Linked DNA regions of Homo sapiens. The protein of the gene in region 1 purifies or fractionates together with the protein of each later gene. This does not show direct contact. Each region holds a gene or a part of one and is shown in the gene's direction. Other genes may lie near its edges.

Region 1 (5,653 bases):
GTCTCAAACTCCTGACCTCAGGTGATTCACCCGCCATGGCGTCCCAAAGTGCTGGGATTACAGGCGTGAGCCACCGCACCCAGCTCAATTTATCACTATTTTATTTTATGTTATGTTATGTTGTTTTTATTTTTATTTTATGTTATTTTATTTTTGAGAAGGAGTCTCACTCTGTCACCCAGGCTGGAGTGCAGAGGCGTGATCTCAGCTCATGGCAACCTCCACCTTCCAGGTTCAAGCGATTCTCTCCTGCCTCAGCCTCCCAAGTAGCTGGGACTACAGTTGTGTGCCACCATGTCCGGCTAATTTTTCTTTTCTTTTTTTTTTTTGAGACGGAGTCTCGCTCTGTCCCCCACGCTGGAGTGCAGTGGCGTGATCTCGGCTCACTGCAAGCTCCACCTCCCGGGTTCACGCCATTCTCCCGCCTCAGCCTCCTGAGTAGTGGGGACTACAGGCGCCCGCCACCACGCCTGGCTAATTTTGTATTTTTAGTAGAGACGGGGTTTCCCCGCGTTGGTCAGGCTGGTCTCCAACTCCCGACCTCAGGTGATCCGCCCACCTCAGCCTCCCAAAGTGCTGGGATTACAGGCATGAGCCACTGTGCCCGGGTGTGCATTTTCCAAATTAATATTTTAATAATAAGCGCAGGCCAGGCCGGGCGCGGTGGCTCACGCCTGTAATCCCAGCACTTTGGGAGGCAGAGGCGAGCGGATCACAAGGTCAGGAGTTCGAGACCAGCCTGGCCAACATGGTGAAACACTGTCTCTACTAAAAAAAAAGAAAAAAAATACAAAAGTTAGCCAGGCATGGTGGCGTGCACCTGTAATCCCAGCTACACAGGAGGCTGAGGCAGGAGAATTGCTTGAACCCAGGAGGCGAAGGTTGAAGTGAGCCGAGATCACGCCACTGCACTCCAGCCTGGGTGACGCAGCAAGACTCTGTCTCAAAAAAATAAATAAATAAAAAATAAGCACAGGCCAGGTGTGGTGGCTCACGCCTGTAATCCCAGCACTTTGGGAGGCCGAGGTGGGCGGACCTCCTGAGGTCCGGAGTTCAGACCAGCCTGGCCAACGTGGGGAAACCCCGTCCCTATTAAAAATGCAAAATTAGCCAGGCGTGGTGGCACACTCCTGTAATCCCAGCTACTCAGGAGGCTGAGGCAAGAGAATCACTTGAATCTGGGAGGCGGAGGTTGCAGTGAGCTGAGATGGCGCCACTGCACTCTAGCCTGGGCAACAAGAGCGAAACTCTGTCTCAAAGAAAAAATAAAATAAAATAAAATAAAATAAAAATAAAATGGCTGGGTGCGGTGGCTCACGCCTGTAATCCCAGCACTTTGGGAGGCTGAGGCGGGTGATCGCCTGAGGTCGGGAGTTCAAGACCAGCCTGACCAACATGGAGAAACCCCGTTTCTACTAAAAATACAAAATTGGCCAGGTGTGGTGGCACATGCCTGTAATCCCAGCTACTTGGGAGGCTGAGGCAGGAGAATCACTTGAACCCGGGAGGTGGAGGTTGCAGTGAGCAGAGATCTTGCCATTGCACTCCAGACTGGGCAACAAGAGCAAAACTCCATCTCAAAAAAATAAATAAATAAAAATAAAAATAAAAAATATTAATTTGGAAAATACAGAAAAATAGAGAAAAGTATTCAGTCTCACCACCCAAAGACAAGTACTAATTCTAATCCTACTCTTTTATTGATACTGTGTTTTTTCATTCCAATCTTTTTTGTTTTGATTTTTCTCTCATATATTCTTAGTAATTTTTTTCTTTCTTTCCTTTTTTTTTTTTTGAGACAGGGTCTCACTTTGTCACCCAGGTGGGAGTGCAGTGGCACGATTATAGCTCACTGCAATTTCAACCTCTCAGGCTTAAGCGATCCCCCTACCTTAGCCTCCCAAGTAGCTGGGCTACAGGCGCACACCACTGTGCCTGGCTAAATTTTGTATTTTTTTGTAGAGATGGGGTTTTGCCATGTTGCCCAGGCTTGAACTCCTTGGCTCAAGCAATCCACCCACGTTGGCTTCCCAAAGGCTGGGGTTACAGGAATGAGCCACCATACTTGGTAATAATATTCTTAAACATTATTTATGTTGTGTGTATGTGTGTGTGTTTTGAGATGGAGTCTTGCTCTGTCACCCAGGCTGGAGTGCAGTGGCATAATCTTGGCTCACTGCAACCTCCACCTCCCGGGTTCAAGTGATTCTTCTGCCTCAGCCTCCCGAGTAGCTGGACTACAGGCGCCTGCCACCATGCCTGGCTAATTTTTGTATTTTTAGTAGACAGACAGGGTTTTGCCAGCTTGTCTAGGCTGATCTCGAACTCCTGACCTCAGGTGATCTGCCCACTTCAGCCTCCCAAAGCGCTAGAGACATGAGCCACCACGCCAGCCTCAACTGTTGTATTAAATTCCACATTCCATAGGTGTTACCAAAATAGTCTCAGTAGTCTTAAAATATCTTTATGCTTATGAACTCCACCCTTGTATCCAAAAGAACTGGTAGCTGGAGAACAAGTTTTATTCCGCCACCCAGCAGGAAGCCTTGGCATCCTGTGGCCCAGTGCATGGTTTTGGGGGATGAAGCTGACTCTGGTTCTTCATGTCCCCAGGTGGGAAGAAAAGATCCCTCTGGCAAAAACCACCCTGGAGAAGACCTGGCTGTTCCACGAGATCGGCCGCTGCTACTTGGAGCTGGACCAGGCCTGGCAGGCCCAGAATTATGGCGAGAAGTCCCAGCAGTGTGCCGAGGAGGAAGGGGACATTGAGTGGCAACTGAATGCCAGTGTTCTGGTGGCCCAGGCACAAGGTATGGGCTCAGAGATGACCACCCTACCTTTTCCAGCCTTCAGGCCCAGCTCACACCAGGGCTAGGAGTCTTGTGGACTGAGTTTACCATCCCAGTGTTTCTCCTTCCCAGATTATTCTGAGAGTGGGGATAAGCCACTCTATTTTGACCAGCACGTGGTAAGTGCTTTCATTAAGCAAAGCTTGGTTAGAGCTTGGGGTACCTTGAGCCTACCTCTGCCCTTGAGGAGGTCAGCTGCAGACCCACACAGCATCGTGTCATCCTCACAACAGTGCCCATGTATTGAGCCACTTTCCTTCTGCCTTGGTACTTTTTTTTTGTTTTGTTTCATTTTGTTTTTGAGACAGAGTTTCGCTTTTGTTGCCCAGGCTGGAGTGCAGTGGTGCGATCTCGGCTCATTGCAACCTCTGCCTCCCAGGTTCAAGTGATTCTTCTGCTTCAGGCTCCCAAGTAGCTGGGATTACAGGCGTCTGCCACCACACCTGGCTAATTTTTTGTGTTTTTAGTAGAGACAGGGTTTCACCATGTTGGCTAGGCTGGTCTCAAATTCCTGACCTCAGGTGATCCAAACGCCTCGGCCTCCCAAAGTGCTAGGATTACAGGCGTGAGCCACCATGCCCGGCCCTGTTTTGTTTTTTGAGACGAAGTCTCACTATGTTACCCAGGCTAGACTGCAGGGGCACGATCTCAGCTCACTGCAACCTTGGCCTCCCGGGTTCAAGCGATTCTCCTGCTTCAGCCTCCAGGGTAGCTGGGATTACAGGCGCGCACCACCACACCCGGCTAATTTTTGTATTTTTAGTAGAGACGGGGTTTCACCACGTTGGCCAGGCTGTTCTCGAACTCCTGACCTCAGGTGATCCACCCGCCTCAGCTTCCCAAAGTGCTGGGATTACAGGCATGAGCCACCACACCCAGCCAGCATTCTTGTATTGAATCATTATGATGTAGGTAGGCATTATCATCCTTATTTTAGAGATAGGGAAACTGAGGCACAGAGAGGTCCAGTAGACTCCCCAAGTCCTATGAGGGAAGCTTTTTTTTTTTTTTTGAGATGGAGACTCACTCTGTCACCCAGGCTGGAGTGCAGTGGCGCGATCTCAGCTCACTGCAACCTCTGCCTCATGGGTTCAAATGATTCCTGTGCCTCAGCTTCCTGAGTAGCTGGGATTACATGTGTGCACCATAATACCCAGCTATGTCTTTGTATTTTTAGAGATGCAGTTTCACTATGTTGGCTGGTTTCAAACTCCTGGCCTCAAGTGATCCACCCACCTCAGCCTACCAAAGTGCTGGGATTACAGGTGTGAGCCACTGCGCCTGGCCGAGGAAACCTTTTATTTTTTAATTTATTTTATTTCTTTATTTTTATTTTTTGAGATGGAGTCTTGCTGTGTCACCCAGGCTGGAGTGTAGTGACACAATCTCGGCTCACTGCAACCTCTGTCTCCTGGGTTCAAGCGATTCTGCTGTCTCAGCCTTCCGAGTAGCTGGGATTACAGGCGTGTGCCACCACTCCTGGCTAATTTTTTTGTATTTTTGTAGAGATGGGGTTTCACCATGTTGGTCAGGCTGGTCTCGAACTTCTGACCTCAAGTGATCTGCCCGCCTCTGCCTCCCAAAGTGCTGGGATTATAGGCATAAGCCACTGCACCCGGCCTCCAAGGGAACCTTTCAGAGTGATGGAAATGTTCTAAAATGGGATTGTGGTGGCCACTGTACAACTCTGTAAATTTTCTTCTTTTTTTTTTTTGAGATGGAGTCTTGCTCTGTCACCTAGACTGGAGTGCAGTGGCACAATCTTGGCTCACTGCAACCTCCGCCTCCCGTGTTCAAGCTATTCTCCTGCCTCAGTCTCCTGAGTAGCTGGGATTACAGGCGTGCGCCACCACACCTGGCTAATGTTTGTATTTTTAGTAGAGACGGGATTTCACCAAGTTGGTCAGGCTGGTCTTGAACTCTTGACCTCGTGATCTGCCTGCTTCAGCCTCCCAAAGTGCTGGGATTACAGTTGTGAGCCACTGTGCCCGGCCTCAACTCTGTAAATTTTCTCAAAATCATTGAACTTTATCCTTACAAGCCGGTGAACTTTATTTATTTATTTTTTTGAGAAGGCGTCTCACTCTGTTGCCCAGTCTGGAATGCAGTGGCGCGATCTTGGCTCACTGCAACCTCCGCCTCCCGGGGTCAAGTGGTTTTCCTGTCACATTGAGATAACTTTAAATTACATACTCAGTTAAAAATTAGGCTGGGGACAGGCACGGTGGCTCACGCATGTAATCCCAGCACTTTGGGAGGCCGAGGCAGGTGGATCACCTGAGGTCAGGAGTTTGGTACCAGCCTGACCAACAAGGTGAAACCTCGTCTCTACTAAAAATACAAAAATTAGCCAGGTGTGGTGGCACACGCCTGTAGTCCCAACTACTCGGGAGGCTGAGGCAGGAGAACTGCTTGAATCCAGGAGGCGGAGGTTGCAGTGAGCCCAGATTGCGCCACTGTGCTCCAGTCTGGGTGAAAGAACGAGACTCTGTCGCAAAAAAAAAAAAAAAAAAAAAAAAAAAAATTAGCCTGGCCATAGTGGCTAACACTTATAATCCTGGCACTTTGGGAAGCCAAGGTGGGAGGATCGGTTGAGCCCAGGAGTTTGATACCAGCCTGGGCAACATAGGGAGATCTCATCTTTACAAAAAATAAGGCAACTTAAAGAGACCTCATCTCTACAAAAAATAAAAATTAGGGCGGGGCACAGTGGCCCATGCCTGTAATCCCTGCACTTTGGGAGGCCAAGGTGGGCAGATCACAAGGTCAGGAGTTCAAGACCAGCCTGGCCAACATAGTGAAAC
Region 2 (4,420 bases), on another chromosome or scaffold:
AGCTGGGTGACTTTATCATTGTATACAACAAGGTAAGTCTTTTTCTGTTAGTCTTGTGCTTTGGATTGCCATACACTGTCAGAAACAGACTAGATAGAAGCCTCTGTCCAACTGGATGGAGACACTCTTCTTCTGTTCTCTGGCATCACCATCCCTTATGTATTACTGTTAGGGGAAGCAGGACCCCACACCTTAACTCAGCTGGTCTGAAAAACTATTTATTACTTCTGAAGGCCCAGTGGCCATAGTTAATTCTTAATTCTTATCAAAAGGCATATTCCTTTTGAGCACTGAGATGAATCCTAGGCTGTGTGAGTCTGCACGGTTGTTAGTGCCTGTAGAAAGTGGCAAATTGACCATTGGAGAACAAATTTGAGCTGTGGATTGAATGTAATGACATATTCTTTCTTGAACGAGTTATACTTTCATCTTTAAAACATTTTATACATTACAGAATTTTACAGTCAAGCCCAAGAAATATACTATTTAATTAGAATATTTTGCAAAGCATTCTATATCCCGGGATCTCAGAATGCATTAAAAATATCATTTTGGGTGTTTGGGTTTGGGAGGTTTGGTCAGTTTGCAGAAGGAAAAGCTGATAGAAATTTAAATGGCTTTTCTAAAGTTGCATGGAATTGTTGGTAGAATATCAGTGCACCAAACTCATAGCCACAATTTACTCCAGATCTGTTGAGAATTTTGTTATGTCTTATATAAGTGAAGAATTTATTCAGTATGGAAGCTGGTATAAGAGTACCTTCCAAGATCTGTCTTTCCTCTCCTAATTGGAACAAAATACTGTGTCTCTGTTGTCATATTGTTAAAGCTACAAGGGTGATCATAGATATTACTAAGCTACTATAAAAACCTCTTTAATCAATGGGCTGTGTAAGTAGAAAGTAAAAACATGATTAAAATTTACATTCATTCTGCAACTTTTACTTGGGAATTTCAAAATGTTTTACAAAATCATGGCCAAAAGTAATATGTCAAATTTATAGGTGGCAAAAGTACATACAAGAATTAAATGTCTTTACTATAAGGACAGATTAACTCAAGGCTATTGAAACTACATGATGAAGTGCATATTTATTAGGAGTCAGTTTTATCTTGTTGTTTTTCTGTGGGGTTTGGGCACTGGGTAGGAAACAGAACAAATGGCTGAAAAGAAATCAAAGAAGAAAGTTGAGGAAGAAGAGGAAGATGGGGTGAATATGGAAAACTTTCAGGAGTTCATCAGACAAGCAAGGTAGTAGACATTCTTGATTGATAAAAGCTGTCTTATTCCATCTTCCATAATGCTCATTGAGTACCCAGCATTCCTTTGTTTCTGATACATGGATGTGAATGAAATCACTCTTAAAGCCGGGCACAGTGGCACACCCCTTTAGTTCTAGTTACTTGGGAGCCTGAGGCAGGAGGATTGCTTGAGCCCAGGAATTCGAGGCCAGCTTGGGCAACATAGTGAGACCCTGTCTCTAAATGATGAAAAAAGAAATCATTCTCAGAAGGAGAAAAGATTGTATGGGTTTGGCCTCTCCATATCTTAGCCAATTATGTTGCTATTTTCATGGCTTCAGTTATCAAAACATTACTGCTGGGTAGCAGGGCTGTAGTTCTCGACAGCCTTCACAGTGCACATCTCTTGAAGTCACATGAGAGCTCTTTGGAAAGTTGAAATTAGAGGCATCTCATATTTACTGGGTCTGAATTTGTCCCTGACCTACTCATGGAGTAGAAATGACCACATTTTGCCTACATTGAGTAGGCTGAGGAATTTGCAATTTCTCCACTCTGTGAGGGTTACACCTAATTTATATAAAATAGAACAAGTTCTTCATGCTTAGGGTTAGCCTTTAGAAATGGAAAATCTCGATATTCATCTCTCTATCTTGATAAAAGTCAGCCAGGCCATTTTGTCCATTTATGTTGGCTTACAAAGGAAGAGATAACAAAGGCACTTAATTTTAAATCTTGTAAAACTTACACTGGAGGATTTTTTTCTAAATAGAGAGATGTGCAAAACCATTAAAATAAAATAGGATAAAAAAACAGTAAGCCCCATTACTTAGGCTTCAACTGTCAAAGTCACAAATAGGGAGAAAATCAGTAGAAAATCTACCCTATGTTGATTGGTGAAGTTAAATGAGGTAGGGGTAGGAGCTTATCAATCACCAGCATAATATAATCTTTGTTTAATACCCTTTTCAGACCTCACTATCATGCGCTTTACAGCAAACAAATATATCATTTTGTAGGAGTCCATAATTGTATGGTGTTATTTGTTGACATTTTTGAGTCTTAAGTAATATGATTGATAAAACAGGTATAGTAACAGCTTCTCTCATCAACGTTATAAAAACAGAAAAGGATTAAAAAAAAAAAACAAAAAACAGATTGTGTCCAGAAAATAGCTCTACTTTTTAAAGCTAAAAGATAATTTTCAGGTTTATCCTAAGGATCTTCAAAATCCCTAAAATATATATTTTAAAAAACCCAGCCTTTAAAAGAACACTATTTCCCAAGCAAGTCTAACTGGACACTAAAAATGAATTATAACATATTGTTAACTAATTATATAGATGTGGAGATAAAATGCATTGGAACATAATTACTTCTGATTGGGGATTAGGTGTTGATTGTTGGGAAATAATGTGGTGACGTCAGTTCTTCTTTTATTAAGTTTGGTTTGAGTACATGGATACTTTTCAGGGCTGGTAAATTCAAATACTTGCTGGAGTCAGACAGGAAAACATAAATTATGAAGTGGGCAAAGGATAAGACAGATATAAAGCAGCTTGTATTTTGACCAACCGTAACCTTTGCCTTTCAGTATTCTGTGAAGGGCCAAATAAAACACACTGACAGGCAAAGGTTTGCACCCTCAGCTGTAGATCTTTGATAGTCACTTGAGAGACTTATCTTGTGGCATTTGGCTACTTTGAAGACTTTAGGGTTTACGCTGAGATTCATAAAGGTGGTTTCTAGGTTCTGGTTAGAGTGTGTTTTCTGAAGATGGGATATAGGTTCTCTGTGATAATGCAGGCATTCTTCACTTAATAGCCACTTTCCTAGAACGTAGCCAAGCTTCAAGAAAAAGAAAAAGAAAAGAAAAAGGCCATTGAGAAGCTGCTACAGATGTTAAAGTCCATGTGTGATATGTTCAATAGAAGAATCCACTAGCCTCTCATCTGTTTCCTTATACTTTCTATTTTGTGGCTGTTCATAAAGAGCATATAATTTCAGTAATTTGAAGTGATTTAGAGATGATATACTTTAGTCTCGTGCATTATATAGATGGTTAGGGAATTCTATGGTTATTGGTGGATTTCCTTATTTCTGACATAGGCAATGAAAATGACAAGTGGCTCTTTAAGTGAAGGTACTTCAATTATCTAGAAGTGAGCTGAACAAACTGTAAAGGTCCAGATAATAAACATTTCAGACTCTGTGGGCTACATATGGGTGGTGGTGGTGGTGGTTGTTGTCTTGTTATTGTTGTTTTGCATATTCTTTAAAAATATTTTAAAAAATTTTTGGCTGGGGGCCATAAAAACAAGTCGCTGGTCAGGTTTAGCCCACAGTGTGTAGTTGTTTGCCGCCTGTTCTAGAATGTGGCTGTCCAATAGAACTTTTTGTGGGTGACTACTGAACACTTGAAGTGTGGCTAGTTTACGGAAAAGAATCTTTAATTTAATTTGAATTTAAATAGTCACATATGACTGAGTAGTCGCTACCATATTAGACAGTGTAGATCTAGAAAATTCACTGCGGGATGAATAAAGCCTTATGCTTTAAATTTTTTAGATTGCTTTCATTTATATTTTATTTTAACCACCTATTAATAGGGAATTTTCAGCTTGTGCTTTTCATTTTTCCCTTTTCCAGCTTGCTCTGTTTTCATAATAAAATCTGGTGGAAAGATTTTCCAGAATAGCTTCCTGTCTGACCATACTTTTTCTCCTCATTTCAGTGAGGCTGAACTGGAGGAGGTGTTGACTTTTTATACCCAAAAGAACAAGTCTGCTAGTGTCTTCCTGGGGACTCACTCTAAAATTTCTAAGAACAACAACAATTATTCTGATAGTGGGGCAAAAGGTGGTAAGTATACTGGTTAATGAACGAAAAATAAGAAGAACAAGTGAAGAAATGAGAAATGCAAAGGAGAATGAGGAATAATGTGTTGGCTAAGCACTAATAGTCCCCAAGGTAATGAGACTTTGCAGCTTGGGGAGGGAGTGGAGAATGGGGGACAGTACTTTTTGTCCTAAAAGCAGAAGAAGGGCATGGTCTGATTTTTTTTCAAGATAATTAACAGCAGAGAGATTTTCAAGAAAAGCTAATAATAGCTGATATTTAGTGAACACTTATCTTTCTGTCTGCTGGACATGGTCTTATTTTTTACTTCCCAAAACCA
Region 3 (4,420 bases), on another chromosome or scaffold:
GGCCAAGGCAGGTGGATCACGAGGTCAGGAGATTGAGACCATCCTGGCTAACGCGGTGAAACCCCGTCTCTACTAAAAAATAGAAAAAATTAACCAGGCGTGGTGGTAGGCGCCTGTAGTCCCAGCTACTCGGGAGGCTGAGGCAGGAGAATGGCATGAACCCAGGAGGCGGAGCTTGCAGTGAGCCGAGATTGTGCCACTGCACTCCAGCTAGGCAACAGAGCGAGACTCTGTCTCAAAAAAGAAAGAAAAAGAGAAAGGACACCAAATCTGTTTTTATCACTATAGGACACAGTGAACACAGCACGTTGATTATTTGAGAATAATTGTTTACATGTCATTTCCCACTACGAGACTCTGAATATCTTGAGGACTAGAATACCATTTCCTTGGCACCTAGTACGGTGGAAAATAAAGTCATGAATCCTAGCCAGGCATGGTGGTACACACCTATAATCCCAGCTACTTGGGAGGCTGAGGTGGGAGGATCACTTGAGCCCAGGAGTTCGAGACCAGCCTCAGTAACATAGTGAGACCCCATCTCCAAAAAAAAAAAAAAAAGGCCGGGCGTGGTGGCTCACACCTGTAATCCCAGCACTTTGGGAGGCTGAGGCGGGCGGATCACGAGGTCAGCAGTTCCAGACCAGCCTGACCAACATGGTGAAACTCCGTCTCTACTAAAAACACAAAAATTAGCCGGGCATGGTGGCGTGCACCTGTAATCCCAGCTACTCGGGAGGCTGAGGCAGGAAAATTGCTTGAACCTGGGAGGCAGAGATTGCAGTGAGCCAAGATTGCGCCACTGCACTCCAGCCTGGGTGATAGAGCGAGATTCCGTCTCAAAAAAAAAAAAAAATTGTACAGGCTACAGTTGGAAATGCGTTTTTTTTTAAAGACCAGATAATTATTTGAAGTCAAGTACCTACTGTTCTTTGATCAACCCAATACTGAATACCTCCTCTGTGCTGGGTACTACCAGGGATATGAAGATGAACAAGATGCCATCCCCATCCTGGACGTTCCCCTGGGTTGCAGAGGGCAGGGTGGGTGGGTAATGTGTAAACAAGTTGTGAGGGTTCAGTGAACAGAGACAAGGAGCAACATGCATGCTGCAGAGGGTTCCTGAGAGTGCTGCAGAGGAAAGGGACCATACTCAGGAAGACTTCACAGAAGCGACTTTTGAACCCTTCAGGAAGACCAGGAGAGGATCCTCGCCAAGGCAGGGATGAGGAATGCAAGATGGGAGGCTTGGGCCCCAGAGATTCATCAGTGATATTAAAGTGTTGGCCCAGATGGGGTGGTGGGTAGATGGAAAATAAAGATGGACCTCCCCGCCTCCTCCCCACCATCCACCATCAGAAGACTGGAGGTATAGAAACAAGTTAGGAGGCTGCTCTGTCCCAATGAGAAATGCAGGATGCCTGAGATGCCTGAGCCGCAGCAGTGGAGGCACTCAGGGCACAGCCAAGAGATGAGGAGGATTTACTGACAAAAATGCCAGTCACCAAGAGAGAGACAAATCAGACACCTGTTCTCAGTGCTGTGATGGGCTGGGTCTGGTAGGAGGCAAAGGATGTGTTAATTATGATACAAGTAGCAAGTGTTGGATGTCATGAGAAATAGCTAAAAGGGCTCAAACCCATCATTGTTTGGCCCAGGAACATATGAAAACATAGGTACTTGTTTTTCTAAAGTGTTTTGCTTTTTCAGGATGGGATAAATGCCATAACTAATCCATAACTAAGAGTATCTGTTCAGTGTCACTACAGTTCTGTTCCTTTTTTCTTTTTTTATGCAGATTACCCCACATTCCTAAGCATGTTCATATCTCAAGCTTTTTATGATCATTTCACATAAAATATTATTCAATTGAGCAAGCTGAGACAAGGCAAGTTGTTCAAGAATGAATGTGATCAAGTCCAGGAGGAAGCCATACCTCTCACTTGTCCCTGCCTTGAAGCAGTAGCAGAACTTGCCACCCAACTTGAGCAGTGTGCCACTGCCAGCCAGCTCTTTGGCTCAGGTTAACTGCAGAATAATTTTCCGTGCTGAGAATATTTGTTAAATATCACCATCTCTTCATTATGCTTCTGTAATTCTACCTGCCTGGCAGCTGTCTGCAGGCCAATATGTCAGGTGATAAGCTACCAACTGCCATGGAGCTGCCCCTTTAGTTATCTTTGATTTGGGGAAAACTGCAAAGTGATATTTTTACCATTTTAGTATGGGTCTAAGCAAGGGGTGTGTGTGCATGTGTGTGTGTGTTGTATGTTTTAATGTATTCATACACTAATCATGGGCCTTTTTCTTAGTATTCTTACATTCCCGTGCATGTGACTTTCCAGTTATGTAACTTGCTGTTAGAAAACTTTAGATTCCCTTGGTTCCTGAAGTACACAGAAGTGGTGTTCATTTTCAGAGTAGAAACTGATGTGCCTTTCAGAATGGCTGACAAATTTTGGGGGTAAGAAAGTATGTTACATGTCCTTAGAGAGAGAGAAAGAATTGATTTATGAAATAGTACTTTTAAATTTTTCTTCAGATTTGGTATCATTACCGTAATTGGTAGACAGTAAAACCTGTCACTTGAAAATGAGCATCTGTCACGTTACCATTAATAACGTTAACGTACGCTAGGCCTAAGACTCCCTGCAGTGACCCATCTTGTTTGAATGAATTGTCTTTGTGTGTAGATAATAAACCTGCTGAAGAAGTTGTCCCGGCCAGCATTCTTCTGCATTCCAACATTGCCAGCCTTGTCAAAGACCAGGTGATTCTGAAAGTGGACTCCGGAGACTCGGAAGTGGTCGATGGGCTTATGCTCCAGCACATCACTCTCCTCATGTGCTCAGCTTATAGGAACCAGCTGCTCAACATTTTTGTGCGCCCATCCTTAGTAGCAGTAGCATTGCAGATGACACCAGGGTTCAGGAAAGGTAATTTTCAGGAATGCAATCTTGACTTTTAGAAGAGGTCTGGCCATTCCATTCCATTTAGGGAGCCACATTTGAAGCCTTGTAATGTTCAGCCTCACGCCGGTGAAGAGCAGGCCTATCACTGAGAAAAAGTTAGCTTTGTTCCCCAAATACTTGTTCATCTGCTTCGAATTTTGGAATTGGGAGGACCTGGAAATAATCTAAACCTTTCCTTCTATAAATATGGAAAATGAGGCCTAGAAAGTTGCATAATTACTGAGAGAAGGATCTGGCATTTGAGTACAGTTCTCCACTTCCTGGTCTGCGGCACTGTTTTGGCTGTGCCAGCTCCCTGATCCAGCAAAGGCAGGTGGGCAGATGAGCAGTCAGCAGTCGATGAGTACTCCCGAGATGCATGGTCTTGTTCTAATTGTATCAGGAGTATAAAAATGAGTACAGTACACGTCATGTTCACAGGAGCCTGTAGTCAAGGCCAGGGGGTTCTGTCAAGGCCCTATGTTAGAATTACTAGGGGAGTGAGCCCCACCCCAAAGTTTCTTCAGTTGACCTGGGGTATGGGCCAGCCATTGGTGTTTGGTTTTGGTTTTGGTTTTGGCTTTTCAAAGCTCCACAGTGATTCTAAGGAAAAGTGCTACAGATATAATAAAGATACCAGGAAATATGAATATAGAGGGAAATTAAGAAATCAGTACCTTTCCTTCCCTACTAGGGAGCCATGGGGTAGGGAAAAATGAAGCGTCCTGGCCTCTAAGGACTGTGATGTCTCGCTGAGTAGAAGCCTGGTTGTAGGTTAGAGTCAATCATTTAAAAACTATGCTAGGGCCGGGCGCAGTGGCTCACGCCTGTAATCCCAGCACTTTGGTAGGCCGTGGTAGGAGGATCACGATGTCAGGAGTTCGAGTCCAGCCTGACCAACATGGTGAAACCCTGTCTCTATTAAAATACAAAAATTAGCTGGGCATGGCGGCGAGTGCCTGTAATCCCAGCTACTTGGGAGGCTGAGGCTGGAGAATCGCTTGACCCCAGGAGGCGGAGGTTGCAGTGAGCCAAGATTGCACCATTGCACTCCAGCCTGGGTGACAGAGCGAGACTCCATCTCAAAAAACAAAAAACAAACTATGCTAGACCGTAGTTTGCTCTGTGGGTAAGATTTGGGTTTAATTTAGCTTCCCTCAGGGGACTTAATTCTTGTCCCTGTTACATGAATAAAATATGCCTTTGAAATACATTTTGTGATAGTAAGGACTTCCTGGTACTCCCTTAAAGTTTAAAGGGCAATGTTGTAATTTTACATGATGCATTTATTTCCAGAGGATGTCTACAGTTGCTTTCGCTTCCTACGTGATGTTTTTGCAGATGAGTTCATCTTCCTTCCAGGAAACACACTAAAGGTAAAGTGCTTACAACAAAGAGCAAGTATGTTTGCAGTGTGAGTTCTAGAAATGTTAGGGGTGAATTCACAGATGTGTCTCAGGCAGTGTGCC

Evidence for each region. Proteins that work in one complex are often made in the same cells at the same time.
Region 2: the proteins of ODAD4 (region 1) and TTLL5 purify together in Homo sapiens (affinity purification with mass spectrometry; 2 studies listed by BioGRID and IntAct, with this or other methods). This does not show direct contact.
Region 3: the proteins of ODAD4 (region 1) and GNPAT purify together in Homo sapiens (affinity purification with mass spectrometry; 2 studies listed by BioGRID and IntAct, with this or other methods). This does not show direct contact.

What each region holds. Positions count from the first base shown.
Region 1 is NC_000017.11:41,946,540-41,952,192, forward strand, and holds part of ODAD4 (outer dynein arm-docking complex subunit 4), read left to right. Parts: intron 1-2,613; coding exon 2,614-2,810; intron 2,811-5,653. UniProt on the Homo sapiens protein: Component of the outer dynein arm-docking complex (ODA-DC) that mediates outer dynein arms (ODA) binding onto the doublet microtubule. Plays an essential role for the assembly of ODA-DC and for the docking of ODA in ciliary axoneme.
Region 2 is NC_000014.9:75,775,599-75,780,018, forward strand, and holds part of TTLL5 (tubulin polyglutamylase TTLL5), read left to right. Parts: coding exon 1-32; intron 33-1,148; coding exon 1,149-1,252; intron 1,253-3,976; coding exon 3,977-4,104; intron 4,105-4,420. UniProt on the Homo sapiens protein: Polyglutamylase which modifies tubulin, generating polyglutamate side chains on the gamma-carboxyl group of specific glutamate residues within the C-terminal tail of tubulin.
Region 3 is NC_000001.11:231,268,065-231,272,484, forward strand, and holds part of GNPAT (dihydroxyacetone phosphate acyltransferase), read left to right. Parts: intron 1-2,693; coding exon 2,694-2,936; intron 2,937-4,247; coding exon 4,248-4,327; intron 4,328-4,420. UniProt on the Homo sapiens protein: Dihydroxyacetonephosphate acyltransferase catalyzing the first step in the biosynthesis of plasmalogens, a subset of phospholipids that differ from other glycerolipids by having an alkyl chain attached through a vinyl ether linkage at the sn-1 position of the glycerol backbone, and which unique physical properties have an impact on various aspects of cell signaling and membrane biology.